Linked DNA regions of Homo sapiens. The protein of the gene in region 2 purifies or fractionates together with the protein of the main gene of each other region. This does not show direct contact. Each region holds a gene or a part of one and is shown on either strand. Other genes may lie near its edges.

Evidence for each region.
Region 1: the proteins of CLTB (region 2) and SEC13 purify together in Homo sapiens (affinity purification with mass spectrometry; 2 studies listed by BioGRID and IntAct, with this or other methods). This does not show direct contact.
Region 3: the proteins of CLTB (region 2) and AP2A1 purify together in Homo sapiens (affinity purification with mass spectrometry; 2 studies listed by BioGRID and IntAct, with this or other methods). This does not show direct contact.

The regions. Positions count from the first base shown.
Region 1 is NC_000003.12:10,318,874-10,322,618, forward strand, and holds the start of SEC13 (protein SEC13 homolog), read right to left. Parts: upstream 2,240-3,745; 5' UTR 2,180-2,239; coding exon 2,177-2,179; intron 2,169-2,176; exon of another isoform or gene 1,998-2,168; intron 1,792-1,997; exon of another isoform or gene 1,636-1,791; intron 444-1,635; exon of another isoform or gene 407-443; coding exon of another isoform or gene 266-406; intron 1-265. UniProt on the Homo sapiens protein: Functions as a component of the nuclear pore complex (NPC) and the COPII coat. At the endoplasmic reticulum, SEC13 is involved in the biogenesis of COPII-coated vesicles.
Region 2 is NC_000005.10:176,396,001-176,399,645, forward strand, and holds part of CLTB (clathrin light chain B), read right to left. Parts: intron 2,048-3,645; coding exon 1,930-2,047; intron 1,719-1,929; coding exon 1,607-1,718; intron 533-1,606; coding exon 479-532; intron 1-478. UniProt on the Homo sapiens protein: Clathrin is the major protein of the polyhedral coat of coated pits and vesicles.
Region 3 is NC_000019.10:49,801,477-49,805,121, forward strand, and holds part of AP2A1 (AP-2 complex subunit alpha-1), read left to right. Parts: coding exon 1-145; intron 146-245; coding exon 246-413; intron 414-504; coding exon 505-665; intron 666-1,057; coding exon of another isoform or gene 1,058-1,123; intron 1,124-1,472; coding exon 1,473-1,529; intron 1,530-1,630; coding exon 1,631-1,713; intron 1,714-1,810; coding exon 1,811-1,900; intron 1,901-3,645.

The DNA.
Region 1 (3,745 bases), on a different chromosome or scaffold from region 2:
TACAACACTTTATGCTGTTTCTTCTCCCCACTAGAAGGTGAGCTCCTTGGAGCCATGGTCTGAGCCATCTGCAGTTTCAAATCCCCTCAAATCATCCAGCACAGTGCTTTGCAAATAGAAGGAACTCAGCGACTATTTGCTGAATGAATAAGTAAATGAACAAAAGCTGTTATTTTTTTTCTTTGCTCAACCACTCTTCTCTTAAATTCTTGGGATAGAAAAGAGGACTTAAAAGAAGTTTCAGTGTGGAACAGACATTTCTTACCATTTTCCCCATTTCATCTTTTCCAGCACAAGCCCTGTAGGTATAAAGTTTGACTTGTGATTTCAGAAAGGCAGACAGTGGAAGAGGATGGCTGCAAAGCAGTTCAAGAGGTACACACCAAGTAAGCACAGGTTCTCTCATCAGATTCTAGACTCTCTAAAAACCAGGTCCCCGAAGTCTGCAAAGGCAAGTAAGGACAATAAGGAGTTTCCTCCATGTGCCGAGCTGTATAGGTTACAAAGTGCACAGGAAGGCGGGGAGGGCAGGGTACCAAGGGCACAGTCAATCAGAGACCTGCGACAGACTAAGGAAATGAAGAAGCCCAGAGAAGAGAAAGCACTTGCCAAAGTCACAGAGCTAGTTCAAGGCAGACCTGGGAAAAGAGCCCCATCCCCTAACCTTCTAATGCTGAGTCCACAAAACTTCACTCCACCAGGCTGCCTGTCTAGAATGTAAAGCAGTTGTTACACTGAGTTCTGTAAAGCTGCGGTTAAGTAGGTTCACGAAGAAAGTTTACTGAGAGGTAGTTTCAACCAGGTTACCAAAGGACCTTAGAAATAATCAGCATTTAATTCTAACCACTCTCACCCACCAGTCAGGGTTGATGAACCACACTTCTGAATGAGAGAGAGAGAGAGAGAGAGAGAGAGAGAGAGAAGGCGGGGGGGGGGGGGGGGGAGGAAAGAGGGAGGGGGAGAGAAAAGGACGGAAGGAAGGAGGAAGGGCGGGAGAGAAAGGGAGAGGGAGAGGAAGGGGGGAGGAAGAGGGAGCGGGGAGAGAGAGAGAGAAGAGAGGGAGGGGGAGAGAGAGAAAGGGAGAGGGAGAGGAAGGGGGGAGGGAGAGGGAGTGGGGAGAGAGGGAGGGTGGGGAGAGAGAGAGAGAGAGAGAGAACTTCTTAGAGTACTTCTTCCCAGGGACCTGGTATTATCTGGTCCCTGTTAACACCTGCACTCAAAATAATTCACCTCTTTGAGATCAGATAATGAGTTAAAAATTCATTTAGGATGAGCTGAATGTCAGAGCATAAAAGCCTCAACTCTAACCTGCAGTGGAAGAGCCAGAGGTGAGTGATTTACACCTAACCCTCTGCAGAACAAGAACACAGTGTTCTGATTTCTAGGTTCCTGCAGGTTCCCTCAAACCTGCTGCTGAGACACACCCATGTTTCTAAAAGAATGCATGTACTAGATATTCCAGGCTCAGCCCAGATACTTCCATTCTTTAGTTCTCCTTCAGTCATTCATTCACTCAAGGAGTAAGTGTGGAGTGAATGTACACTGCAGATGCCACAGAGACTTAAAAAACCCTGAGCCCCTGCCTTCGGAGGGTCGTTCAGGCCATCTTTACGTTTCCCGAGGTGCCCATCCTACCTGGGGGCCCTACCCCGAGCAACAGTTCAATCATCTCTGCTGGGAGCTGCAGTAGGCGGCAGAAAGGAATGGTTAGGAGGGTTCAAATCTCGGCTCTACTACCACTTAAGCAGCTGTGCAAGAGGCTCCACGTCTCCGAACCTCAAGTGTCCTCATCTGTAAAGTGTTGAGAAGAATAGCACCTTCTTCACAAGGCTGTTAGCAGGCGGAGATTACGAACAATGCTGAGGGCTCGGTATACAGTAGCTCCTCTGCTGTTCCTCGTTTTGTTTTCAATTGTTGACCGAAAAGAAGGAAGGGAGACTGGCAGGAGACGCAGGAGCGGCGCGCCCCGCAAAGTCAGGGAGGTTCCTCGGCCTCACCTCTGGACTCCCCTCGGAATGGTCCGCAAGGACGGGGCCAGAGCCCCCCAAATCTCTAAGCGGTGGAGGGGAGCTGAACGGCTCCAGCTTGGGATTTGGGACTCAGGACGGCCGAGGAACCCGTGAAGGCCGCGACCGTGGCCTTCACCCTGCTAGGCCTCCTCAGTACCAACACTCACCATGATTGCGGCGGTGGCTGCTCCAGGTCTCGGACGTGGCAGCTCCCGGCGGCGCCTCGGAACAGCTCACTTCCGGCGCCGGGCCCGACGGGCCGTGGCGTAGGAGCCTCCGGGCAGCAACGCGCTCGGCTCGCACAGCAGTTCCGCGCCTTCCAGAGGGCGCGCCCCGCCCTCCCGTGGCCCAGCCCCTATCCTCCAGTGACGTGCGAGACCAGAGGGCTGGGGCTCTGGTTGCCGCAGTTACCCTGACCCGGAGGGCTTTGGAATCTGAAGCTCTGGTGGGTCTACTCTCCCGACCAAGTCTGCCCTTTTCCTGAGATCCATAAATGAAAGAAAGGATTAATATAACTATCGGCCGGGCGCGGTGGCTCATGCCTGTAATCCCAGAACTTTGGGAGGCTGAGCTGGGGGGTGGATCACCTGAGGTCAGGAGTTCGAGACCAGCCTGGCCAACATGGTGAAACCCCGTCTCTACCAAAAATACAAAAATTAGCCGGGCATAGTGGCGCGCGCCTGTAGTCCCAGCTACAGGCTGAGGCAGGAGAATCGCTGGAACCCGGGAGGTGGAGGTTACAGTGAGCCGTGACTGCACCATTGCACTCCAGCCTGGGCAACAGAGAGACACTCTTGTAAAAAAGAAAAAAATCTATCTATCTATCTATCTATCTATCTATCTATCTATCTATCTATCTATCATCTATCTATCTGCAGCTTCACCCGCCTCACTACGGCTCTGGGTGCGACTGGTCTTATGATGAATGTTGTAGGATGAGTGACATCTTAGGAGTAAGTAGACTGTCCTAGTGCTTCCTTGTTGTAGTCTCCCTCTCAGTACCCAAGGACTGGGACCAGGGCAGAGGAGGCCAGGGAATGCCCCTCGCCAGAGGCTGGGACCTCTGGCCCTGCCATCCCTAACCCCTATATAGGACTGCCCCTTCCAAACCGATCCCCTGGGGTCCTGAGTAAGTCCCATCAAGGAGACCCCCCTAGGCAATGAAGGATCTCAGCCAGGCTCCTGCAGCTAGAGCCCCAGACCTAATCCTCAGGGTCCCCAACCCCAGGTCTCTGGCTTCACAAGGTAGGGCAGCTGAAGGCTCCCCACAAGCGCAGTGAGAATGCCACACTGGAGGACAGAGCCTGGGCTCCCCGCCTCAGCCACATATGGTCTAGCCCTGGGCCCCTTGTGACATTAAGGAGGCAGATGAGCTGGGGGAGGCCTTGGCTCCCCTTGGGCAAGTCACAGTCCTTCAGTTTCCTCTGCTGAAACTGGGAGTAAGGACCCTAGCTGGAGATGGTCACTGCTTGAAGGAAGATGTTAAGGCTCAGAGAATGTGATAGACCCAAACTGTCAAGGAGCTTTGGAGGGGAGGCCAGGGGAGTAGGGTGTTAGAATTAAGGGCCAGGCCTCTGGGCAACTCTTCTACCCCACTGCAGCTTTCAAGATTTTTTATTGCCCTCTAGTGGAGAAATTGTTGCAGGGGTGTGAGGGGGTGGTGGTTAGGTTAGAGCAGGGAACAAAGGCAGGTTTCAGGGGATCTCTTGGATCTCCTGTTGTTTTTTTTGTTTTTT
Region 2 (3,645 bases):
TGCATGTGCCTATAATCTCAGCTACTCGGGAGGCTGAGGCAGGAGAATCGCTTGAACCCAGGAGGTGGAGGTCGCAGTGAGCCGAGATCGCAGCACTGCACTCCATCCTGAGCAGCAAGAGCGAAACTCCATCTCAAAAAACAAAAAACCCTTCACCCCACACACCCACCAAGAGACATCACAGAGGGAGGGAGTTGGGGTGCTCTGCCATTTGCCCCTCCCACATGGGAATAAGTGGCAAGCACATTCCTTTCTCTGCCTTTATCCTGCAAGGCTCTGATTTAGCCAAGCAGCCTCCACTTCACTGGAGGGAGGGAGGTGGTTGCTGCCTGCACCCACCAGGGCATTTGCCTCCTGTTCTGACCATTGCTCCGAGCCCAGCCACACTCATTTATATCCCACAAGCAGGAAACTCAAGAAACTGTGGTGGCCATTCCCTCTCTAGCTCCCCCAACAGAGAAGCAAAACAGACACGTACACGTAGCCGATGATATCAGCATCTGGCTGCTGGTAGAATGCTTTGTCAGCGATCCTTGAGGGAAAGGTTGAGGGAAGGGGTTAGGTGGGGGAAGGCAGATGGCAAGACAGACAGGCAGGCAGAAGGTTAGAGAGAGAGAGAGAGACAGCATTAGTACCTCCAGTGGGAGAAATGTTAGGAAGCATAGTTCTGGAAGGCTCAGCAACGACCCACAGCCCCAAACAGGAGAATGGGGACCTTCACCCTGGCCCCAGCACCTTCTCTAAAATTCATCCCTGATCATGTTACTCCTGTTCAAACACCTTCAGTGGCTCCCCACTGCCCATGTCACTGCCCAACTCATCAGCCAAGGCCCTTACAGTGTGAGTCCACAGGTTCCTGCCTTCTCTCCCACCGCTCCCTGGCCCCCTGTTGCCTAATACATCACATTTTTTTCTTCGTACCCAGGTCTAGAATGCCCCCCTACCTCCTGCCCTTTTTTCCCTTTTTTCCTCCTAGTCATCTTCCAAAGCCCAAGTCCCAAGACACAGAGGTCTCTCCCTGACCTGTTTCCTTGCTTCCATGGCCTTCGTGCAGAGGGCCCTACTGTATTTGAGCTTAGTTGAACATGTGTGTTTTTCTCCTCTGCGCCCTTTGAGGACATAAGGCTGGGTCCTCCTTATCTCCATCTCCTCCGTGCCTACCCCAGAGCCTGGCATGCAGCAGTTCCCTAGACAGAAGGGTAGCTTCCCAGAACAGGCCTTTCCCTTCCTGGAAGACCTTGTACCGTGAAGGACAGAGCCTCAAAGGCAGGGAGCACTGGGCAGTGTTCAGTCATGTCCCCACAGCCCCTCTCATGTCCCCATAGCCCCTCTCATGTCCCCACAGCCCCTCTCATGTCCCCACAGCTCCCTCTCATGTCCCCACAGCTCCCTCTCATGTCCCCACAGCCCCTCTCATGTCCCCACAGCTCCCTCATGTCCCCACAGCCCGTCTCATGTCCCCACGGCCCCCTCATGTCCCCACAGCTCCCTCATGTCCCCACCCCTTCATGTCCCCATGGCCCCCTCATGTCCCCACGGCCCCCTCATGTCCCCACAGCCCCCCTCATGTCCCCATGGCCCCCTCATGTCCCTACAGCCCTCTCACCGGTTGTTGATCTTGTTCTTCTCTACTTGTTCACTCTGGCGCTGGTTCCACTCCTCCAGGTCCTTCTTGGCCTTCTCCCGCCATTCCTGTTCCGTGACCTTAGATGCAGCATCTAGGACCCCACAAGAGAATGAGTGGCTGCTTTCCAGCTGGGATGCACAGGCCCGGCCGCGCTCCTCCCCTGGCCCCTGCCAGGCAGCCACAGGGCCGCACCGGCCCAGTCCCACATTAAGGCATGCAGCATCCCATGCACTCCGAGGACTCCCCACACTCCACCCCACACACAGCCCACCCAGCCAACCCCGCCTCAGCCCCGCCCTCACCCAGCTCTTGCAGCCGTTTCCTCTGCTCCTCTCGCCACTTGCGGATGCTCTCAGGCTCCTGGGTCAGCCTGTCAGCCTGGGCAATGGCTGCGTAGCCATCAGCAGGACCGTTGGCCTCCTAGAACACAAACACGCAGCAGTCTATCCAGCCAGCACACCTGCCCCGCTGTCTCTGCTGCCCCTGCTGGGGACCCACTCATGTCTGGATAACTCAGCCTCAAACAACCTCATACCCACTGTCTCTGGTGACTACACCTATCTTTGCACTTGCTGTTCCCTCTGCCAGCAACACTCCGCCACCTGTGTGACTGCGGGCAAGTTACTCACCCTCTCTGTGCCTGATCATTGCCTCTGGCCCAGTTATAGGTTTTGATACCCCCAAAGCAGAAGACTCAAGAAAGCGTGTGCCAGCCACTTTCTTTGTCATAAAATGGGCTAAATAACAGTATGCACTCTGATGGGAGGACATAAGGATGAAATGAGTTAAAAATTATAAAGAATGTCGGGCGCAGTGGCTCACACCTGTAATCCCAACACTTTGGGAGGCCGAGGCGGCAAATCACCTGAGGTTGGGAGTTCAAGACCAGCCTGACCAACATGGAGAAATCCCGACTCTACTAAAAATACAAAAAATTAGCCAGGCGTGGTGGTGCATGCCTGTAATCCCAGCTACTCCGGAGGCTGAGGCAGGAGAATCACTTGAACCCGGGAGGCAGAGGTTGCAGTGAGCCGAGATCACACCATTGCACTCCAGCCTGGGCAACAAGAGCAAAACCCCGTCTCAAAAAATAAACAAATAAAAATAAAAAATAAAAATACTGCTTGGCACAGTGAGTCCCTTGTGTTACCGTCATTAAAATCACTCTCTATTGTGGTTGTATTAACTCCTAACACTTAGTCCAAAAAGACCTCAAGACCTCACTTTTTTTTTGAGATGGAGTGTCCCTCTGTTTCCCAGGCTGGAGTGCAATGGTGCAATGTTGGTTCACTGCAACCTCTGCCTCCCAGGTTCAAGCGATTTTCCTACCTCAGCCTCCTGAGTAGCTGGGATTACAGGCACACGTCACGACACCCGGCTAATTTTTTGTAGTTTTAGTAGAGACGGGGTTTCTCCATGTTGGTCAGGCTGATCTCGAACTCCCGACCTCAGGTGATCCACCGGCCTCGGCCTCCCCAAGTGCTGGGATTACAGGCTTGAGCCACCGTGACCAGCCCAAAAGGACCTTACTTTATAATGTGTTTGTCTGTCTCTGCCATCAGAATGTCATCTCTGTCCTTTTCACTGCTATGTCCCCAGAGCCCAGCACAGTGCCTGGCCCAGCAGATGCTCAGTAGATGTTTGTTGAGTAGAGAAGCATCCCTGAGATATGCAGCATGATCATAGCTCAGATCACACCATGGGAAAGAACTTGGACTCTGCAGCCAGGCTGTCTCGGTTCAGATGCCACCTCTGATACTATGAAATGTTTGTAAGGCCTGGGAGAAATTGCTTAACCTTGCCTGACTTTTGTTTTCTCATTTGAAAAATGGGGCTGGGCATGGTAGCTCATGCCTATAATCCCAGCACTTCGGGAGGCCAAGGCAGGAGGATCACTTGAGGCCAGGAGTTTAAGACCAGCCTGGGCAACACAGCAAGAGTCTGTCACTATTTTCAAAAAAGTTTTTTTAATTATGGAAAAAAAGGCCAGGCACGGTGGCTCACGCCTGTAATTCCAG
Region 3 (3,645 bases), on a different chromosome or scaffold from region 2:
GTTCATCAACCTCTTCCCCGAGACCAAGGCCACCATCCAGGGCGTCCTGCGGGCCGGCTCCCAGCTGCGCAATGCTGACGTGGAGCTGCAGCAGCGAGCCGTGGAGTACCTCACCCTCAGCTCAGTGGCCAGCACCGACGTCCTGGTCAGAGCCCTGTCCCCCCACCCCACCCCTCTTGCACACCCCCTTCCCGCCCTCCCCTCCTCCTGACCCGAACTGACCTTCCCCACCCCGACCGCGCCAGGCCACGGTGCTGGAGGAGATGCCGCCCTTCCCCGAGCGCGAGTCGTCCATCCTGGCCAAGCTGAAACGCAAGAAGGGGCCAGGGGCCGGCAGCGCCCTGGACGATGGCCGGAGGGACCCCAGCAGCAACGACATCAACGGGGGCATGGAGCCCACCCCCAGCACTGTGGTGAGTCCCCTGGGGTGGGCCCTGCCAGGGTGCCTGGGGCTGGGTCCTGCCGGGCGCCGCCTGTCCTCACCGTGACCTGCGCTTCCTACAGTCGACGCCCTCGCCCTCCGCCGACCTCCTGGGGCTGCGGGCAGCCCCTCCCCCGGCAGCACCCCCGGCTTCTGCAGGAGCAGGGAACCTTCTGGTGGACGTCTTCGATGGCCCGGCCGCCCAGCCCAGCCTGGGGCCCACCCCCGAGGAGGCCTTCCTCAGGTAGCACCCCCTGGGCCCGGGCCCCTTCTCGCGGCCACCCCCAGGGCTGTCCCTTCTCGGCCTCTGTCCCCGTTTTCCCTGAGCCCCTCCCCCGCCCCCGACTCGCTCCTCTCTCCATCCTGATGCCTTCGCCAGCCCTGGCTGCTGCCTCCCCTGCCCCAGCCTCCCTGCTCACGCCCTCCCTCTGCCACTCTGGACTCCGCCGACCCTGGCCACCCTTCGTTGTCTCCTTTCCTGTCACCGTTTCTCAGCCTGCTCTTCCTTTTCTCCTTCTCTCCTTCCCTCTTCCGTCCCTCCCTCTCTGTCTCTCTTCTGCCCTCTCGCTGCCTATGTGGAATTGGCTGCCTGCCACGCCTGTCTTCTCTTGTCTGCTCTGGGATTGGATGGCTCAGCGAGCTGGAGCCGCCTGCCCCCGAGAGCCCCATGGCTTTGCTGGCTGACCCAGCTCCAGCTGCTGAGTAAGGGGTGGCCTGGGGTGGGAGGTCGGTCGGGGGGGCGGACTCGGGTGTCCCCAGGGAGAGTTAGGGGACTGGGAGCCCTCGTCAACGGGTTCCTGATGAGCAGCAGAGGCAGGGACTTGGAGGAAAGGGAAACTTGGTGTCTGCCGATGCGGGGGCACGGGCCAGGGTTCTATTCCCATTGGAGGCCACTGCTGGATGGATGCGAGGTTCCTCGAGGCTCTGTGAGGGGTCTGGATATGTGGTTCTGGGGTTCTGTCCTTAGGGCTTGTTCTCGCACTCAATCGCTCTGGGCCTTTGCCCCTCCCCACCAAGTTCCTTCCCATCTCACTCTGCTCCATGCCTCCAGCCCAGGTCCTGAGGACATCGGCCCTCCCATTCCGGAAGCCGATGAGTTGCTGAATAAGTGAGTCCTGGGAGTGGTGGGGGAGGGGAACGGGACAGGTGCGGAGCCCAGGCCAGGTGCAGACAGGCACCCCCGTCATCTTGCGCCCCCTGCCCCCTCAGGTTTGTGTGTAAGAACAACGGGGTCCTGTTCGAGAACCAGCTGCTGCAGATCGGAGTCAAGTCAGAGTTCCGACAGAACCTGGGTGTGTCCCGGGGGACTGTGGGAATGGGTCGGAGGGAGACCTTGGGGAAGGGGTCAGAGGGACTCAGATGGAGCTCTGCCTCCCCCACCTACTGCAGGCCGCATGTATCTCTTCTATGGCAACAAGACCTCGGTGCAGTTCCAGAATTTCTCACCCACTGTGGTTCACCCGGGAGACCTCCAGACTCATATCCTCTCAGGCCCGGCCCAGCCTCCTGCCTCTCCACGTCGGCCTTCCTCACCGTGGGGAAGCCGGCTGACCCAGGTCCACACTTCTCTTCAGCCTCTCTTGGGCACGCAATTAGTTCTCTGAGATTGAGTGTCTGCATCTGTTAAGATGGGGGTGGGATTCCTTCCCCCAGGACAGGGGATGACAGTGAAGTGGTGTGTGGGAGGCTTTACTTCCAGAACTCCACCTGCTCCAGGCCTCATTTTGTCCCTGTCTGGCACCTTCCGTGTCCTGCCATCGTCCTCCACTGGGCTCCATGTCATGATGCCAGCACCGCCTGCACTCAGGAGCCAGGCCTGCGGGTCCAGACGCTGATCAGGCCTGATCTGGGCTGAGTCACTTTGCCTCTCTGGGCTCTCCTGTCCCCGCTGTGAAGTGTATGTAGACCCTCCTCTTCCTCATAGGGTTATTGTGAAGATCAGAGTGTCTGGAAAACCCTGGAAGGGCGGCTGGAGGTATCAGTCCCCCCTGCCCGTTCTCTGGGCCTCCATTGCCACATTCATGAAATTAGAAAAGCTCGACCTGAAAACTCCTTCTGGCCGGGCATGGGGGCTCACACCTGTAATCCCAGCACTGGCAGGCTGAGGCCAGTGGATCATTTGAGGTCAGGAGTTCAAGACCAGCCTGGCCAACATGGTGAAACCCCATCTCCACTAAAAATACAAAAATCAGCTGGGTGGTAGTGGCACGCGACTGTAATCCCAGCTACTCAGGAGGCTGAGACAGGAGAATCGCTTGAGCCTGGGAGGTGGTGGTTGTGGTGAGCCGAGATTGTACCACTACACTCCAGTCTGGGCGACAGTCTCAAAAAAAAGAAAAAGAAAAGAAAAAATTCCTTCTTCGGTCGGGCACGGTGGCTCACGCCTGTAATCCTAGCACTTTGAGTGGCCAAGGTGGTTGGATCACGAGGTCAGGAGATCGAGACCATTCTGGCTAACATGGTGAAACCCCTTCTCTACTAAAAATACAAAAAATTAGCCGGGCGTGGTGGTGGGCGCCTGTAGTCCCAGCTACTCGGGAGGCTGAGGCAGGAGAGTGGCGTGAACCCAGGAGGCGAAGTTGCAGTAAGCCGAGATTGCGCCGCTGCACTCCAGCCTGGGCGACAGCGAGACTCCGTCTCAGGAAAAAAAAAAAAAAAAATTCCTTCTTTCATAATTTCCAGAGGCTCGTGCAGGCAGCTCAGTGGAGGCAGTGACAAAAGAACATGAGACCCAGGCCTTCCCAGTGGGCTACTGACACGGATGCAGATGATGATAACACTAATTGCTACCATCTTTGTGTACTTACCATGTGCCGGGCACACAGACAAGTACTTGTGATGGATTCTTTTCTTTTCTTTTTTTAAATAGAGTTGAGGCCTCGCTATGTTGCCCAGGCTGGTCTCAAACTCCTGGGCTCAGTGATCCTCCCCACCTTGGCCTCCCAAAGTGCTGGATTACAGGCGTGAGCCGCCACACCCGGCTGGATTATTTCATCAACTCCTGAGGACATTTTACACATGTCCTTGTGTTGAGACAGGGCCTCACTCACCCAAGCTGGAATGCAGTGGCATGAACACTGCTCACTGCAGCCTCGAACTTCTGGGCTCAAGGCATCCTCCTGCCTCAGCCTCCCAAGTAGCTGGGACTACAGGTGCACATCACCATGCCTGGCTAATTTTTTTGTAGAGATGGGGTCTTGCCATGTTGCCCAGGCTTACACATG